Linked DNA regions of Homo sapiens. The protein of the gene in region 1 purifies or fractionates together with the protein of each later gene. This does not show direct contact. Each region holds a gene or a part of one and is shown on either strand. Other genes may lie near its edges. The genes, in order: REG3A and PUS7.

Region 1 (4,503 bases):
CTAGCTGTATGTTTGTACGATGAACTAAACTCTTTTCATCTCCCCTCACCCGTCTCAGCCTCTGGTAACTATTCTACCCTCTGGTTACCTTCTACCCCGTACCTCCATGTGTTTACATATTGTTGTATAAATTTTGTGGAAAAAAATCCTTTTTAACAAAATAATCTGCTGGCTATATTTCTTCTCATATTATTTGAGGAATTGCATTGAATTTTGGGTACTGAATTTTGAGGACGTGAATTAAGGATGAGCTACATCTCATGACCTCGTCACAGACCCCTACTATAAACATCTGCATACAAGTTGGCATATTACAACAATAGCATGAGAGTCAGGGTCTGTAGAAATTCCCAGCCTAACTTTTTCCTGGACTGGCCAAACTGAACCTGAACCAGTGTATGGGCAATGTAGTATGCTTGTCAGAGGCACCAAACTGCTAACTCAAAAATAAACATGACTAAAAGAACTTCTCCCAGTATACCCATATGAAGCTGACCATTTGCCCAGTAAGAATGCAATGAAAAGGGCTTTTAATGTACAGCCAAATGGCAGTCCAGCAAGGAAGCTCATGAGCAACCTACAAGTAGTGAGCATTTTGATGTAATAGAGACTTACATGCAATTCAGAATTATGTTTACAACATCACAAAACAAAAATTTAGAGATAGGCTCTCACTCTGTTGCCTAAGCTGGAGTGCAGTGGGATGATCATAACTTACTGCAGCCTTGAACTCCTGGGTTCAACTGAAGGTCCTCCTACCTCAGCCTGCTGAGTAGCTAGGACCACAAGCACACACCACCGCAACTGGCTTAAATTAAAATATAAATTGTAGAGATAGGGTCTTAATGTGTTGCCCAGGCTGCTCTTGAACTCCTTGCTTCAGGTGATCCTCCCACCTCAGCCTCTCAAAGTGCTGGGATTATAGACCTGAGCCACAGCACCTGGCCAACTGACCTATGATTTTACACAATGGCTGCTCTTCCCTTCTTTAACTATTATTCATTCTTCTTTGATCCTCATTATTTGACTGTAGTCCTTCTTATGTCTTGTTTTCCTTCATTACCTCTTATTCTATCACATTGCCATTGTCATTCTCCACTGGGGAAGCTCTTTCTTGCTGAAGACTGGAAAGACAAGTCCATTCACCTGATTTTCTGTAAGATTGTGGCTCATGTATTGACTTGTCAGACAATTCTGAAGTTTCATCAAAATTAGCTATCATGCTTGCATAATGGCCCTGAACCCTCACTCCTACTCTTAGCTTCAGTACCATCTATGTCCTCAACTGTCCATGATACTTATAATTCCCGTAAATCTTCACTTAACACCTAACATTTATTTAATCTTACTAGGCAAGGTAATAAGAAATACATAGGTTTGCCTCCAGAAGTGGGTTCTTAAGAAACCCACCAGAGGAACTCCTCTTTCAGATGTCCACATTAGAAGATTTCATATCACATTTGGTGCCACAGGCCTTTGACAAGGAGGATGCAGAGGAAAAAGCAAACTTCACCTCTTCCTAGGGAAAGTGTTGGCCTGCCAACAGGAAAGAGGCAACATCTGGGAAAATCCCCAGTCTTTGCCAGGAAGAGTCCATGCCAACCCCACCCCATGACCCCTGTCCTGCCTACTCATTGTCACTCTTCACTCCAATGTCCCTCCCCCAGATCCTCTTATAAAATCCCACTCTTTCCTGACCAGACAAACCATACCATATCCCACCAGAGAGGTAAGTGGGAGCTGAGAGAAGATGAGACCCAGGGAGGAGCTACTGCACATGACACAGGAGAATACATGGGAGGGTCCCTTCCTCAGGGAGCACAGGAACTCTGAGACTCAGCAAGGGTGTCCTGGGAGGGCTCGGGGATGGGAGAGTACACAGATTCACAACTCATTCAGAACTGTAGAAGATGATGGATGTGACCAAGATCACTTTAGTCCTAGGGGACTAGAGAAGGAAAATGACATGAGGCAGTGGGGTATCTGTGTGTTCTCCCACTGACCACGCTTTCTTTAGTGACTCCTGATTGCCTCCTCAAGTCGCAGACACTATGCTGCCTCCCATGGCCCTGCCCAGTGTATCTTGGATGCTGCTTTCCTGCCTCATGCTGCTGTCTCAGGTTCAAGGTGAGATTGCTTTGCCTCTAGCACTGGGTTCCCTATGAATCCTCAGAGCTAACAAGAGGAGGAAGGCTCCTGTGTGTCATGTGAGGTAATGACGTGGTGTCTAATGAACCTGCCTGCAGTTCTTGCATCATCTCTCCTTCCTTCAGGTTAACTTGCAGTGGGAGGCTCCATGGTGGTCCACTAACAGTGGAATGAGATGGCTTCCATTTAGTCAGTGGACTCTAATATACACTGGTGGGAAAGTGGACTCTAATATACACTGGAGGGTCAGTAATGAGATGTGGGGAGGGACAATGATTGGAGGACCCAATGTAGAGACAGCCCAGAGTGAGGAGAGTATTGAATGGTTGAATAAGGGGAAAGGGTAATAAGAGACTGGATGGTGCTCCATTTACTACGGCTATTTTGAGATAAAGAATTTCTGAAAACATAAGGGAAGATGAAGGGGTGTCAGGAATGTGGTCTTCCTCCCCAAGGACATTCCTAGGTATTCCCCAAGGTCATCTCCCACCCCAAGCCCCACTCTTCATTTTACCCTCCCCCCTCTTCTTCCACCTCAGGTGAAGAACCCCAGAGGGAACTGCCCTCTGCACGGATCCGCTGTCCCAAAGGCTCCAAGGCCTATGGCTCCCACTGCTATGCCTTGTTTTTGTCACCAAAATCCTGGACAGATGCAGATGTGAGTGGTTAGATGTGGTGTTGGAGGTGACCGGTCTCAGGGGGAGGAGGGTCTCCATTCAGGAGAGTTCCTTGGGAATGAGGATGAACACGTTTATCTTTCACACAGTCCTCCTCCCACCTACCTTTGCCCTGCCCTCCCTCAGCAGGTCTCAGGCTCCCTCTCATTCTCTTTGTTGCCCTCAAAGCTGGCCTGCCAGAAGCGGCCCTCTGGAAACCTGGTGTCTGTGCTCAGTGGGGCTGAGGGATCCTTCGTGTCCTCCCTGGTGAAGAGCATTGGTAACAGCTACTCATACGTCTGGATTGGGCTCCATGACCCCACACAGGTGCCAGTATATCCTCCCCTCTCTGTTACCTCTCAAGGTGCTATTGTTGCCCAGGCCCACTCCCTGTCCCCTGTGCCTGCCCAGGAAGTACTTCAGGGAGCACTGGAGCTCAGATTCTGGGGAATATTTGGGGGGAAAGGGAAGGCCATGAAGCATCTGAAGATCTGAGTTCTGTGGAGGTCTCTATCTTTCAGATAAAATCAATCTGCCTTCCTCAGGCGTATTACATAATTCTCATATGAGGCTGGGTTAACAATTCTCTGAGCTTCATGGAGTCTTTGCCTACTATTCTGAAGGAACTCTTAATGAAGATAGGATCAATTTTTGTCCCCATACAGAACTGACATTACTTTTGAGGTTCACAAGCTAATCACAAATGCTACATCAATTATTGTTCTGCAAATAATATATTACCTTGAGTTGTTCCAAAGGTCTTATGTTTATTGGCTGGAATTTTCCAATAGCAATGAGGAGTCAAGGAAGAGTTTCCTACTCACCGGCAGCATCTGGAATAGCAGACCAACTTTCCTCATGCTGGGGAGCAAATCAGGTGTTGCAGCTAAGGGGCCATGCAAGAAGAGCTGCAATGGCCATTCCCTTCACCTGGCTACCTCCTCTACTCTACAGGGCACCGAGCCCAATGGAGAAGGTTGGGAGTGGAGTAGCAGTGATGTGATGAATTACTTTGCATGGGAGAGAAATCCCTCCACCATCTCAAGCCCCGGCCACTGTGCGAGCCTGTCGAGAAGCACAGGTAAGAAACAGAGGAGCTGCCTCTTCCCAGTGTTTTCCATCTCATCCCCCATTCCTGGGTCTGACCTTCAGGAAATCTTCCTGAGCTAGAAAATACAATGTTAGTGTGTCTTCTCTTATCTCCTCTCTTCTCCACTTTCTTTGAATCTCTCTCCTGGATTGGGACACTGGTGAAGGTGAGGGAGAGGCTTTAACTTCTAGGCTAAAACCTGGGATGCCCCTTCATTGGATTCACAAGCTTCCTCAGCCCCATTCCATTTATGTCTTCTGTCTCTCCAGCATTTCTGAGGTGGAAAGATTATAACTGTAATGTGAGGTTACCCTATGTCTGCAAGTTCACTGACTAGTGCAGGAGGGAAGTCAGCAGCCTGTGTTTGGTGTGCAACTCATCATGGGCATGAGACCAGTGTGAGGACTCACCCTGGAAGAGAATATTCGCTTAATTCCCCCAACCTGACCACCTCATTCTTATCTTTCTTCTGTTTCTTCCTCCCCGCTGTCATTTCAGTCTCTTCATTTTGTCATACGGCCTAAGGCTTTAAAGAGCAATAAAATTTTTAGTCTGCACTTGTTTGTCTTGTATATGCCAGTGTCATAGCCATACTCTGAGAAGGACAAA
Region 2 (3,814 bases), on another chromosome or scaffold:
TTTTTTTTTTTTTTTTTTTTAAGACAATGTCTCACTCTGTCGCCCAGGCTGGAGTGCAGTGGCACTATCTTAACTCACTGCAACCTCTGCCTCCCGGGTTCAAGCAATGCCCCTGCCTCAGCCTCCCAAGAGCTGGGACTATAGGCGCCTGCCACCCACGCCTAACTAATATTTAGTAGAGATGAGGTTTCACCATGTTGGCCAGGCTGGTCTTGAACTCCTGACCTCAAGTGATCTGCCTGCCTTAACCTCCCTCAAAACGCTGGGATTACAGGTGTGAGCCACCGCGCCCGGCCTGAAACCAGCTTTTATATAGGTGATTGTTACTTTCTACTCTTTCCTAACAGGTTTTCTTAAATGTTTTCTTGGAGCCTTAAAGATGGAGATGACAGAAATGACTGGTGTGTCGCTGAAACGTGGGGCACTGGTTGTCGAAGATAATGACAGTGGAGTCCCAGTTGAAGAGACAAAAAAACAGAAGCTGTCGGAATGCAGTCTAACCAAAGGTCAAGATGGGCTACAGAATGACTTTCTGTCCATCAGTGAAGACGTGCCTCGGCCTCCTGACACTGTCAGTACTGGGAAAGGTGGAAAGAATTCTGAGGCTCAGTTGGAAGATGAGGAAGAAGAGGAGGAAGATGGACTTTCAGAGGAGTGCGAGGAGGAGGAATCAGAGAGTTTTGCAGACATGATGAAGCATGGACTCACTGAGGCTGACGTAGGCATCACCAAGTTTGTGAGTTCTCATCAAGGGTTCTCGGGAATCTTAAAAGAAAGGTACATTTAGTTTATGAATAAAGTTATTTTGATTGTATTAGGTTTCTTCTTTAGAAAGAAATTAGCTTTATATTCTTCCACTTAGCTTTCCATCTCCAAGGCTTGTTTATACTACTGATCAAAAGGAATAGGATGAAGGAAACCTGCCTGAATAAATAGCCTTGGATTTTTAAATTTTAATTAATTAATTTTTTCCCTTTTTTTGAGAGAGGGTCTCACTCTGTCACCCAGGCTGGCATGCAGTGGCATGATCATGCCTCAAATAAATTCATTCACCAGGCACAGTGGCTTACGCCTGTTATCCCAGCACTTTGGGAGGCCGAGGCTGGCGGATCACTTGAGGTCAGGAGTTTGAGACCAGCCTGGCCAACATGGTGAAAGCACATCTATACTAAAAATACAAAAATTAGCTGGGCGTGGTGATGGGCACCTGTAATCCCAGCTACTCGGGAGGCTGAGGCAGGAGAATAGCTTGAACCTGGGAGGTGGAGGTTGCAGTGAGCCGAGATTGCACCACTGCATTCCAGCCTGGGTGACAGAGCAAGACTCTGTCTCAAAAAAATAAGTAAATGAATAAATTCATTTAAATGGTTTCAGATTTTCTCCTGAGTTTGTTTTATAATCTTAAACTCTTTTTTCATTTGAATGTGCCACAACTATGTTAGAAGAAGGTAGTCTTTGGAGCCAGGTGGATCCCAGTGTGAAGTTCGCTACTTAGTAGTTACTTAGCCTCTCTGAACCTCAGCATCCTTATTTAAAAAATGGATCAGGCCAGACACGGTGGCTAACGCCTGTGATCCCAGCACTTTGGGAGGCCAAGGCGGGCAGATCACTTGAGGTCAGGAGTTTGAGACCAGCCTGGGCAACATGGCGAAACCCTGTCTCTACTAATAATACAAAAATTAGCCTGGCGTAGTGGCACGCGCCTGTAATCCCAGCTACTCGGTAGGCTGAGGCAGGAGAATCACTTGAACCCAGGAGGCGGAGGTTGCAGTGAGCCAAGATCAAGCCACTGCACTCCAGCCTGGGCAACAGAGCAAGACTCTGTCTCAAAAAAAATAATAGTAATAAAATAAAATTTTTAAATGGATCATATTACCACATTGGGGTTGTTGAGGATTTTGAATAATGCATGTAAAATATTTAACATAAAGGTAAGCTTCAGGCTAGTTCATGGTAGACTTACTGGGTTCTGATTCAATTAACCATATAGCATATTTTGTGATTTAATTTAGTGTGGGCTGCCTGAATCGTCATAGGGTAATGTTAATAAGCTTTTGTTTTTGCATTTCTCTGGAAGAATATTCTAGAAGCTAAGAGGGTCTTTTCTTTAAGTTCTCATATAAAACTTGAGCCAAGGTATGGCTCAGCATTCATTAAGAAACCAGAAAAGACCGGATGTGGTGATTCACGCCTGTAATCCCAGCACTTTGGGAGGCCAAGATGGGCAGATCACTTGAGGTCAGGAGTTCAAGATCAGCCTGGCCAAAATGGTGCAACCCCGTCTCTACTAAAAATACAAAAATTAGCTGGGCGTGGTGGCACGTGCCTGTAATCCCAGCTACTCGGGAGGCTGAGGCGGGAGAATCACTTGGACCCAGGAGGCGGAGGTTGCAGTGAGTGGAGATCGAGCCACTGCACTCCAGCCTAGGCAACAGAGCAAGGCTCCATCTCAAAAAAAAAAAAGAAAAAAAAAATTAACTCCATGTGATTTTGCACTGAAGATTTTTTAAAATTCCTTGTTTTGCATAATAGTAAGGCTTGCTGTTGATCAACTTTATCTTAAAATTAATAGAAAACAGGATGTTAATTATCTGAAAGTTCATGTTTTCTTTCATCAGATACTCCGACTTCGTTGTTCATGAAATAGGAAAAGATGGACGGATCAGCCATTTGAATGACTTGTCCATTCCAGTGGATGAGGAGGTAGAAGTAGCTCTTTAGCAAATGTCACCTTCTGTATAAAAATAGCATTTCCTAGAGATTTAGAAATATAGAGCTTTATTAAACTTGAATTCTATGTATGATTCATTGTGAGTTCTCATGGTTATTTTAAAGGACCCTTCAGAAGACATATTTACAGTTTTGACAGCTGAAGAAAAGCAGCGATTGGAAGAGCTCCAGCTGTTCAAAAATAAGGAAACCAGTGTTGCCATTGAGGTAACTAATGCAAAAATATATGAAAAATTATTTAGGGTTTTAGTTGCTTTTTGGGTGGATGTTAAGTGTTTATGGAAAAAATTACAATGGTTAACAAAGGGTGACTTTTTGCTCTATTGGATCTAAAGGATATTACACTAAAAAATTTTTTTACTGGGGCAGATAACTAGTATCCCAGATAAACTATAGCCCCCCCCAAAGTTACATTTTTGTTTAAAAACATTTTTATTTGGGTACAGTGTTACATGCTATTCCAAAGTCCTAGCTACTCCGAAGGCTGAAGCCAGAGGTTTACTTGAGCCCAGGAATTGGAGACTAGCCTGGACAACATAGTGAGACATCATCTCTGAAAAAAAAATTTAGGGACCACAAATGAACAGCGACATATGTTGTTTAGAATCCCAGAGTACCAATTATACCACAATGTCCGTTGTAACAGGACCACCATTTGCTGTCTGTCAGGTATGTGACCCAGGTCAGATTCTGGCTTCAGCAGCTTCTTGGCCTCAGTTGGGACTCTGGGAAGGGGAGGAAATGGGGAAAGGAAGTAGGGGAGCATTTATTTGCTCATCGTGGGTCAATTCTGCTATTGAAGAAAAGGAGAGCTCAGCTACTAAGTAGAATAGTAAATTTTGTTGTTAAAGCTTTTGTTCGCCGGGCACGGTGGCTCACACCTGTAATCCCAGCACTTTGGGAGGCCAAGGTGGGCGGATCACTTGAGGTCAGGAGTTCAAGACCAGCCTGGCCAACATGGCGAAATCCCGTCTCTACTAAAAATACAAAAAAATTAGCCAAGCGTGGTAGCGCAGGCCTGTAGTCCCAGCTACTTGGGAGGCTGAGGCAAGAGAATCTCTTGAACCTAGGAGACAGAGGTTGC

The links.
Region 2: the proteins of REG3A (region 1) and PUS7 purify together in Homo sapiens (affinity purification with mass spectrometry; one large-scale study listed by BioGRID and IntAct). This does not show direct contact.

The regions. Positions count from the first base shown.
Region 1 is NC_000002.12:79,156,954-79,161,456, reverse strand, and holds REG3A (regenerating islet-derived protein 3-alpha precursor), read left to right. Parts: upstream 1-1,703; 5' UTR 1,704-1,729; exon of another isoform or gene 1,730-2,017; 5' UTR 2,018-2,051; coding exon 2,052-2,127; intron 2,128-2,687; coding exon 2,688-2,806; intron 2,807-2,993; coding exon 2,994-3,131; intron 3,132-3,758; coding exon 3,759-3,885; intron 3,886-4,163; coding exon 4,164-4,231; 3' UTR 4,232-4,451; downstream 4,452-4,503. UniProt on the Homo sapiens protein: Acts as a hormone in response to different stimuli like anti-inflammatory signals, such as IL17A, or gut microbiome. Secreted by different cell types to activate its receptor EXTL3 and induce cell specific signaling pathways.
Region 2 is NC_000007.14:105,505,078-105,508,891, reverse strand, and holds part of PUS7 (pseudouridylate synthase 7 homolog), read left to right. Parts: intron 1-347; 5' UTR 348-379; coding exon 380-777; intron 778-2,618; coding exon 2,619-2,703; intron 2,704-2,835; coding exon 2,836-2,937; intron 2,938-3,814. UniProt on the Homo sapiens protein: Pseudouridylate synthase that catalyzes pseudouridylation of RNAs.